Linked DNA regions of Homo sapiens: region 1 is linked to region 2. The links come from fine-mapping of genetic effects on gene expression. A gene starts in region 2. The other region holds a variant in brackets. All regions are shown on one strand. Distances are between the middles of the regions.

The links. PIP is the estimated chance that this variant, and not a neighbour inherited with it, causes the effect.
Region 1: its variant is fine-mapped to the expression of LRTM2 in cerebellum (GTEx, PIP above 0.99).

The regions. Positions count from the first base shown.
Region 1 is chr12:1,934,518-1,939,884 of GRCh38, reverse strand. It overlaps LINC00940 (long intergenic non-protein coding RNA 940), which reads left to right and starts at 3,309. Exons shown (of 2, transcript NR_036546.1): 1 at 3,309-3,431. The variant G/C (reference allele first, on the strand shown) is at 2,769.
Region 2 is chr12:1,817,496-1,822,862 of GRCh38, reverse strand. LRTM2 (leucine rich repeat transmembrane protein 2) reads right to left here and starts at 2,298. Exons shown (of 5, transcript NM_001039029.3): 1 at 2,049-2,298. The region is part of intron 26 of CACNA2D4 (calcium voltage-gated channel auxiliary subunit alpha2delta 4); the gene reads left to right. LOC105369601 (a long non-coding RNA gene) reads right to left here. Exons shown (of 5, transcript XR_931546.3): 5 at 4,057-5,367. RefSeq lists an enhancer at 1,982-2,728.

The DNA of each region.
Region 1 (5,367 bases), 120 kb before region 2:
CACGCTGAGGCGGAGGGCACAGGAGATTGTCACTGTGATGTTCAGGGCGTCATGATCTGCAAGCTGTGTAGCAGATCGAGTTTTATGTTCGCAGAGATGAGGAGCTTAATCTTGGAAGGAGTCAGAAGAGCCCCTGCCAAGTTGTTAAGAGTATCTATGGGAATTCGTCCCTGCTGAGTATTTGTAATAAATAAAGCTTTGCGTTTCAATAGCACTTCTTATTCTCGGATAATAAAAAGATCTTCGATTACTGCACAGCCGACAGGTGTTTTATTCTCATTTTATAGTTCATAAAATGGAAGCGTGAGGAAAACAGGTTTCCCTACCGTTTCTGAGACCTGGGCTTGGACTTTAAGCTCTAGACCTTTGTTCAGCCACAGCATCGAGTGAAAGCATTGTTAGAACACCACCTCCCCTACTCTCCCGCAGGAGGGTGCTTTTTCTTGTGAAGAGAAAGGGTGGGTGGAAAAGGGATTGACTGTTACTGAACCCCTGTTATGTGCCAGACCTTGGCGAGGAGTCTGCTGTGTTACCCTCCAACATTTAGGAAGGGGTGAGTTCTTTTGTTTCGTTGGTATCTCCTACAACATCTAACATAGTGATAAACCATGCAAAGTTTTCACAAAACACTTGAAATTAATAATTGCATATATGGTATCTCAATATTCTTATAAGGAGAACAGGGCGAGGACAGAGACACACTTGGATCTGTTATTCAAAGTCAGTGATCATAGTGCTTGCCTCAGCGATACATGCACAAAAATGGGACAAAATCAATGATCTGATTAACTGCTGGATTCAAAGTCAGTGATCGTAGTGCTTGCCTCAGCGATACATGCACAAAAATGGGGCAAAATCAATGATCTGATTAACTGCTGGCAACCTTAACAATGTATCTTTGATCTTAATTACATGTTTAGAGTTGCTTCGCTAGCTAAGGAGAGATGAATTCCATACTTAATGTTCCTAACGTATTTGCAGTAGCAAATGGCTAATTTCATGAAATATTTATTCTTTTGCTTCAGAACCGAGTAAATAAAACAGAAAGAATATCAGTTGCCGTACCTAATGTGAGAAGGTGCCCATGTTCTGATGCGACGGGGGAACAAACCCAAGCCCAGCATGGTCAGACCTGCCCTGCAGGCTTCAGTCGGGCCTTTCTAGGTCAACACCACAGTCATCTGTTTTGAAAAATAATAAATTCTCCATCCTTTACTGGAATACATCATTTTGAAAGGGACAGGCCCAATTCATTTAGACCAAAGACGAAGTCACCCTTCAAAGGGCAGTTGGTGATGGAGTGCTTATTTCTTCTATACAGCAAAGCAGATGAGAGTGTCTTTGTACAAAAGGACTTTCTCTAGTGAGTCCAAGAAATAGATCAAAAGGGTTATCTAAGGCACCCAAAGCTAGATTTCATAAATAAATGGGCTTTTCTTCTTCCCACTCAGCCCAAATTCTGAGAACATCATGGACGCCACTCCTTAGGTGCCACTGGCTCCCAGGCAGCAGTTTTCACCTGATTGAATCTCAGGTGCAGCCCTGAGATTTCTGTTCGTAGAGGCAGCCTTATCCAGTGCAGTGGGCTTCAGCCTGGTAGACGTTCCAGAAGCCAGAGCCGTCCGGTGTGGGGAAGAGCACCCAGCTATGGAGTCACACAGATCCGCCTTCAACTCCTGAACAAACACATCTTTGGGATGTTGTTTTCTCACTTAGAAAATGAAAGACCCTCACAAGGTCCATATGAGGATTAAATGGGAGCAACATATGGCAGACAGCCCCTCTGTGCCATGACTGTGGTGCGGGGGCCATGCTCCAGTTGTTGGGAGAGGCCCGCAGCTGCTGGGCCGGCCTTTGTTTGCCATCTACCAGGACCTGAGTGTTCAGCCTGGCATTGGCACTTAGGGATCTGTGGCCGCCTTGCTTTACCGCGTTCTCCCCCTCATTTCCTTATCAATGGAATGAAAACAGTAACACTTCTCCCTTCCTTATGAAGGAAGTGCCACAGCTCTTTAAGAGGTCCACATACCCAGCAGTATATTACTTGTAACATACCATGTCGGTATTGTTCTTGCCCCTGCCGTTATGGGTAAAGCACCACCTTAATTGCAAGGCGGGAGAAGGCAGTGCTATTTGATAGGATTTGTACTTCCTGGATCTTCTGAAAAGAAACACTCTGCTCGGTCTCCCCCTTCAGAAGGCCAGACATGGTGATAATTGCAGAGTGAGAGAAACCTTTGTTAGCATCTTCTAGAACTGTCTGGTGTGCATACCCAGCCCTACTGATACACATAGCCCCCTTGTACTGGCTTCTGCCAGCCCTTTTAAGAGGTAAGCCCTGGGCCAACAAACAAAAACAAAACAACAACAACAACAAAATATCGCATGCTGAAGGATTGCCCTGGAAATCACAGATCTGTTGCATTTGGTAAGTTTGTTCTTCCCTCAGACACCAGCAGCCTGCCTGCCCTTTTCAGACCCAGAAAGGACAGAAAGACCTGCTTTCTTCCTCTTGAATGAGAAGGGTGAAAATCTGAAAGTGCGTTTCCACCTCAAGAAATCTCAACTATTGAGTAACAGCCCTCTTTGGTTCTCTCAGGTATAAAGAGAGACCAACAGTCCACCCTTGTTAAGGCCTACTTCCCTGGAGTATGTGGTGCCAAGGATGGGAGGGGCACATTAGAAACGAGTGCTCTGAGCACCAGGCTTTGCTCAGTTTCCATTTGTCAGTGTAGATGCAGGTGGGGCGGGGAGGGGCGGAGTGTTGG[G/C]TGCAGTTTTAGGAACCATGTCTCTGGATTAATGTGGACAGATTGGTCGCTCGCTCCTATTAGCAATGAAGCCTTCTGTTTTCTAACAGGGCCTGCTCTATTCAGACATGTGCCGCCTCCTCCCTTCTCCAAGAAATCAGCCTGCCTTGCAGGCTTTGGAACGTGGAGTCATCTTGGAGGTCAAATGCGTCGTTTGCAGCACGCAGGCTGGGGCAGCGCGGCGTGGTGTAAAGGTGCGTGGCCGCGCAGGCTGGGGAGCCTGCCCAGCATTTTGCTGAACACTTGGCTTTCAGATCTCAGATGCTCTGCACCCCACTCCCTCTTACAATTAGAGGAGTGAGGGAGGTGGTTACAAATACTTGGTATATTTAACTCAACCTTGGGTATCTAGATAGATGTTCACTAAATTGAGTCATGAGTAATGCCTGCCAACAGCTTAGAGCCTTGAGAAAAGTACACAAATAAAAACTGCGTGTGCAGACTGTTGGGGGGGAGGAGAGCAGAGCACTGGGTGACTGGCACTCCCGGCGGCTGGGCAGTACAGACAGGCGCGTGGCCCCGCGCCAGCTAGCAGCCCAAGCTGTGCAGCCCAGGCTTCTGAGGGAGGCAGAAGAAAGAAATCCAAGCCTCGGACAAGTTAACTAAGGGCACGGCAGGAAGGAGGTAAAAATATGTACTAAGTGGGCAAGAGAAAGGGTGGGAGAGCAGACAGTCATAAGCCAAAGTCTAAGAATTTCTCTAAAAGTCTGAGGGCCAAGATGAAAGGCGCCAAATGTCTAGGGAGAAGCCAAGGTAAAGCGTCCTGCTGAGGTCGGCAGACACTGAAACAGACATGTGAGGGACGGGTGGGAGTTCTCAGCATTAGAGATGCTGGGGGACAAGCAGGGCCCCGTCTCCAAGACGACGTTCTCCTGGCCCAGGACGGGAGCTGCAGCCCACCCAGCCGTGCACACACACAGTTCTGTGAGTGCCCCAGCTCCTCCCTCCACCTGTCAGGCACACCTGGTACCTACACAATTGAAGGGGCTCAAAAGACCAAGGCGGCAGTCCCAAGATCTAGGCTGTCAGGAGCCCCTCATCCTGTGTGATGTGGTGTAGAGAATACTGCACTCAGAAAGCTCTGGGTTCTAGTCCCACCACCTCCTGTCTCTTTCGCCACCCAGATAAGTATCAAGGGGAAAGGATTTTCTGTGGTGTCAGTCGTAGGAACCTTGCAATGGTTGCTTTGGGCCAGAGCCGCGCATGCTCCACACTGGCGTTTTCTACGTTGGATGGCAGCCCTGTGGGATGTGCCAGGCAAAACTGGCCCTTCCCCCATCAGCCTCACGGGTCAGGTGTGTCCCAGCTTTTCTTATCGCCACTTACGGCTCCGTCATAAGTCGGTCCAAAATTATTTTTGGTGTTGTTATATTTTCTGCCCATAGCACTTCTCCAGGGTCACTTGTTCCTTAGATTTTATTCCCTCCTGCATAGACAGAGGTTTCCCAGCATGCACAGAGGCTGGGAAACTGTGGCTTGATAGGAAATCTTGAGATAACGGGTCCTGAAAGGACAAGGAGCTCTGCCCGGCGGTGCAGCGCCCAGCCTGTGTGTGGATGGCCGCCACCCATCGGATGCCACGCTGGAGACACAGGGATGAGTAAGACCCTGCCCAGGCCCCGAGGATCTCACAGACCAGTGGGAAGGAGAGTTACTGTAGATGACGTTGTGAGGGCCATCACTTAACGTGCAAATGGGAGGCCAGGGAAGGCTTCCAGGAAGAGGTGATGCCTCTCCTGGTTCTCAAAGGGTGGGTAAGAGTTGACAAAATAAGGGGGCAGCAGGAGTTTAAGGCAAAAGAGATGGCATGAGCCAGGACAGGAAGGCAAGAAGCAGCAATAGTGTCTGTGTACATGTGTGCGTGTGTGTATGGGGTTGTGTGTGTGTGATTGGGTGGGAAGTGGGTAGAATACAAGCTATTCGGTGTTCTGGAACTCGAAAGACAGACTGGCGAGAGATGCGGCTGGCAAAGCACCGTCCAGCCCTTCCAGAGACCAGAGACTCCGTGAGGGATTCTGCCCTCTGCTCCCCACTGCCCGGGCCTGGCTGCCAGCAGGGCACCCTGCCCTGTCTGACTGTGACCAGGTGCATAGAGGCAGTGTCCTGCGGAGGGGAGGCGGGGCCCAGGGACCTGGGCTCTAGCTTCTGTATGGCCACTCACAGAGCAGGATGTGGCCGTCTCCCCCTCGGGAGTCTGTTCCTCTCTTTATGAGATAAGGAAATTGATAATGCCAATAATAAAAAATAATAAAATGATGCCTCACACGTGAGGGGCTCCGTGCAGATGAGACTCAGTACGCCCGTGAGCTGCATGGTGATGTGGGTGCCTGTGGGAGAGCACTTAGAAAATGTTAGTCCGATGGGGGCCACCCCGGCTTTGGGGTCTCAGGGAACCTCCTCAGATACTGGGGTCACTCACTTCCCCATCACACCCCACTCTAACGTGAGCAAATGAGGAATAATTTCTTGTTCATGACTTCAGCTGAAGGCTGCAGAACATTTTGGAGGGATTTTGCAGAGAACAGATGTCCAAAAAGTTCTAAAAGTCAAAGATTCTGGA
Region 2 (5,367 bases):
ATGTGGCCAGGACGCAGGGGAGGCTGCCACAGCCGTCTAGGCTGGGCTCCGCCTACCGCTGCCTGTCTGGGCACCCAGGCCCTCTAGGACAGCTGCCCATCACCCCCATCACACACACTGCCCAGGCAGCAAGGAACCAGGTTTTAAAAATCTCTATATTTGTACTTGGAACAGCCATATACCCTCCTGGTTCATTTTAAAACACATGCCCCATCCTCACCCCCAGCCTCCTGCACCCCCGTTTCCTTGTCAAATATTCTCAATCTCAAACAGACCCTCTGGGAAGCAGAACAGAGAAGCCTCCTGAGTGGCCCCTCATGGGAGCTGGTCCCTGACATGAAGGAGGCTAAGGTGTCCACTGGGCCCTGGGGCCGGGCTCAGGGTGGTGTCCCTGGGGCTGGGCTCAGGGTGGTATTCCCAGGCAGGGCACAGGAGGCTTGGCTGGGGGAAAAAGGAGGAAGACCAGAGGGGCAGACAGCCTCTATGCTGGCTCCTTTCTCCTCTGCCCACCCCCAGAACTCCCAGACACCCCCAACCATCACATACATGCCATCCCCTCCTCCTTCCTACACTGCCCACTGAGGCCATAGCAGCCCAGAGGCGGCCCCTGGGCTCTGGTGCCTGGGAAACGGGAGCAGAGTTTGCTCCTCGTGGGCCCAGACAAGCTTCTGTCAAACCCCAAAGACACCAGATCGGCTGCTTAAGCAGCCTCTCTCCTTACCCCTCCCCGCGGGCCTGGCTTTCCTGGTCTCCCTCTTTTGGCAGTGCTGAGACTTTCTTTCTGCCGGTGGGGAGGTGGGGGTGGGAAAAGCTGGGCTCTTCTTGGCAGCTCGGAAGCTGCTGTCGGGTTTCCCTACCAGCTGGACTTCCCCCGCCTCAGCTCCACGTGCTCGGCTCCCTCCCCGCCCCCACCTGAGGCAGTTATCTAAGCTGCAGGGGTGTCATCTGAGTCACAAAGAGACACTGCCCAAGTAGCCCTGACAGCCGGGTGCCAACACCCCCCAGAAATGTGGACAGCTTGGGGGTGGGGGAGAGACAGGGCCGCCAACTGGAACCCAGCCCCAGACCTGCAGGGAGGTGCAGGAATGTGAACTTCCGACTCCTGGTCAGGCTGCTCCTCTCTCCAGCACTGTCCAAATGGGTCTGGGGGATTGAGAGCAACTGTCCCGCTCTACTCAGGGTGTCCATGCCCCCTGTGTGGGTCAAGAAGCCAGGCAGGCCTGGCCCCGCTGTGTACCCCCCACCCAAGCTCAGTGTCCAGCCCCCACTAAGGCTCCCTGACCCATTTGCAGATGGACGGCTGGGTGCACAGCTGCGGGACACCCCAGCAGGTTCTCGCGGGCCTGGTTCTCCTGTCTTGCCCTTGGGCTAGCAGGGAAGGGCTGCGATACTTCTCTCTCCTGCCCACTCCCAGCCTCACCCTCACCAGGGAGGCTTCATGCACAGCTGAGTGGGCCCATGCTCATCTGGGGGAGGGTTCCTCCACACCCTTGTCCAAGGACAGCCACCTGCAGGCAAGCTATAGGGAGGCCCAGGACCTGGGTCTGTGCCCATGCCTCTGACATCCAGGACCTCCTCCCTGCCACCCTCCACCCCAAGCCTTCCTCTGACCTGGCCCTGTCCCCAGCACCTGACTGCCATCCCAACCGCTTCCCATGACCCCCGAGTTTCTTGGGGCTGTCTGTGCAGAGCCGGGCACAACGACAGCACAAGGCTCTTGGCTGCTTCTCCCATGCTGCAGGGACCGGTTTCTATGCCACCCGGGACTGTCATCTGGCGCCAGCGCTGCCCTCCTCCCCACTTCCCAGCAGAATCCACAGCTCTTGTCCCCAGCACTGTGGGCTCAGAGTTCCCAGTGTCGTGCACCTTTGGGATGCTCAGGTGCCTGAGCCCGAGCAGCTTCTTCGGCCCCAGCAATTGCCTGCAGGTAGGAAGCAACTGCAGCTATTCCTGCAGGGCAGAGATGGCCGGTGCCCACTTCCCATGCCCCGACCACCCCCTGTCCCCACCAACCCTCCATTCCTTCCTACCAGCCACTCGGTACTCACCCGTCTTTACTCTGACTGCAAACGCCTTCAATCAGGTGGCTCTCAACCCTCCAGTAAGACCCTCCTGGGATTCCTATAGAAATCCAGACACCACCGGCAGGCAGAGCGCAGTGGGCACTGGTGCCAGAGTCTCCACTCAGCGGGAGCAGCGGCTGGCACGCAGCACACAGCACCAGGAGGTGGACTGCTTGTGGCAGACGGGGGACGGGGCTGCTGGGTCAGTCACAAACTGAGAAGGAAAGAGAGGGATGGAGGGAGAGAGAGAGAGGAGAGAGGGAAGAAAGGGGCGAGGGAGGAGAGCGCACGCGTGTGCGCGAGCAGCGAGCCAGAGTGGAGCGGGGAGTGACAGCTGGGGTGCATCTGTGATGACAGCGGCAGCAGCACACACAGGCGCACACCAGAGGCACCACGGCCGGCCGCGAGGGCAGCGCTCACCCTGGCCACGCTCACATTTCAGTGGAAAAAGGCGCCTGTGGATGAATCGCTGCCGACCACAGGGAGGAGGAAAGCGGTTTCACCACCACCTCCATCTTCCATCCTGCGCCTCCAGGCTCTCCCTCACCCCCCCGGCTGCACCTGTCTTCTGTGCCTCTCTCCTCTCTTCCCCTCCATCTGGGGAAAGAGGGACAGGCGCAGACACAGAGCAAGCGGCTGACTTCTGTTCCGATGGAGGCCCCCCTGGGAAGCTGGTCTTTCTCCTGTTTTAGAGACATGCGAGGCAGAGTCTCCCATCCTGCCTGAGAGAAGGAAAAACCGAACCCTTCTCTCGGTCATACGAAAGAAGGGTACACAGGCATGTCCATGTGCCAGATGACCCTACAGGAAAGGGCCCTGAGCCCCCACAAAGCCAGGGATCACATGGTCATGCAGAGGTCACTGAGCCTCAGGGTCTGACCACCCGACGCCAGGACTACTTAGGGAAGCAGAATGCCAGAGTTGGCAGGCTGGGAGTTTGGGCACAGGGCAGCCTGCAGCAGCAGCCTGCAGACCGTTCTCAGTGCCAGGGACGAGCTTGGCTTCTCAGGGCTCCTTGCTCTTATCTGTGATGGGTCAGGCATGCGAAGGGAAGAGACTGTCATTCAAGAACTTGGAGGCCTCTTTCTTAACCAATCAGGACAAAGCAAGTCAGAAAAATTGATATCCTAAGAGATGGGAAGTGGCTGATCTGAAGGCCAAGTGAGTCAGGGACCAAGCTAGAGGGGAGCCAGGGCCCCACCAGCCTGGAGCACGAACCCTAAATCCCCCTTCCTTTGCGTCCACTGCCTGTAGACAGATGAAGCACCGTGCTAGCGATATATCACCGTGTCCTATGTCCCTCTTCCATTTTGCCTGCTTTGCTGGAGGGGTTCACAGCCAGGACTGGGGTGGGTGTAGAAGAACCCCCTGGACTCAGGATGCCCCTAGAAGGATGCTCCTGCTCACTCCCTTCTGTCCGTTCTGCCGGGTCCCCGGGCAGCACAAGGCTTGAGCTGCAGTGTCTTTTACCTCTGGGGAGTCCCGCCTCTGACCTCTCATGCTGGTGCCTCCCACACATCCCACTGTCAAGCAAAAGAGGCTCCCACCTCCCCATAAACATACTTCCTGCTTCTCCATCTCCATGAAAGCGTGTTCTTCCCTGGGCCTGAAATGCTCTCCTGCCCATGGGTGGCTTCCCCCTTCCTTAAACGCCCCCTGCAAGGTGACGTTTCCCCGGAACACCACAGGACTGGCCCTGCTCCTCCTCCGATCTCTGGCATTCTCTTTGGGCCACCCTCATGTTGTGCAGGAGCTTTCTGTGGTCTGCTTCATCTCCTTTCCTTTTTTTTTTTTTTTTAATTTTTTTAGTATTTATTGATCATTCTTGGGTGTTTCTCGGAGAGGGGGATTTGGCAGGGTCATAGGACAATAGTGGAGGGAAGGTCAGCAGATAAACATGTGAACAAAGGTCTCTGGTTTTCCTAGGCAGAGGGCCCTGCCGCCTTCCGCAGTGTTTGTGTCCCTGGGTACTTGAGATTAGGGAGTGGTGATGACTCTTTTTTTTTTTTTTTAATTTATTTATTTATTTTTTATTGATCATTCTTGGGTGTTTCTCGCAGAGGGGGATTTGGCAGGGTCATAGGACAATAGTGGAGGGAAGGTCAGCAGATAAACAAGTGAACAAAGGTCTCTGGTTTTCCTAGGCAGAGGACCCTGCGGCCTTCCGCAGTGTTTGTGTCCCTGGGTACTTGAGATTAGGGAGTGGTGATGACTTTTAACGAGCATGCTGCCTTCAAGCATCTGTTTAACAAAGCACATCTTGCACCGCCCTTAATCCATTTAACCCTGAGTGGACACAGCACATGTTTCAGTGAGCACAGGGTTGGGAGTAAGGTCACAGATCAACAGGATCCCAAGACAGAGGAATTTTTCTTAGTGCAGAACAAAATGAAAAGTCTCCCATGTCTACTTCTTTCTACACAGACACGGCAACCATCCGATTTCTCAATCTTTTCCCCACCTTTCCCGCCTTTCTATTCCACAAAGCCACCATTGTCATCCTGGCCCGTTCTCAATGAGCTGTTGGGCACACCTCCCAGACTGGGTGGTGGCCGGGCAGAGGGGCTCCTCACTTCCCAGTAGGGGCGGCCGGGCGGAGACGCTCCTCACTTCTCAGACGGGGCGGCTGCCGGGCGGAGGGGCTCCTCACTTCCCAGACGGGGTCGCGGCCGGGAAGAGACGCTCCTCACATCCCAGACGGGGCGGTGGGGCAGAGGCGCTCCCCACATCTCAGACGATGGGCGGCCGGGCAGAGACGCTCCTCACTTCCTAGATGGGATGGCGGCCGGGCAGAGGCGCTCCTCACTTCCCAGACTGGGCAGCCAGACAGAGAGGCTCCTCACATCCCAGACGATGGGCGGCCAGGCGGAGACGCTCCTCACTTCCCAGACGGGGTGGTGGCCGGGCAGAGGCTGCAATCTCGGCACTTTGGGAGGCCAAGGCAGGCGGCTGGGAGGTGGAGGTTGTAGCGAGCCGAGATCACGCCACTGCACTCCAGCCTGGGCACCATTGAGCACTGAGTGAACCAGACTCCGTCTGCAATCCCGGCACCTCGGGAGGCCGAGGCTGGCGGATCACTCGCGGTTAGGAGCTGGAGACCAGCCCGGCCAACACAGCGAAACCCCGTCTCCACCAAAAAAATATGAAAACCAGTCAGGCGTGGCGGCGCACGCCTGCAATCGCAGGCACTTGGCAGGCTGAGGCAGGAGAATCAGGCAGGGAGGTTGCAGTGAGCCGAGATGGCAGCAGTACAGTCCAGCTTCGGCTCGGCATCAGAGGGAGACCGGGGAAAGAGAGGGAGAGG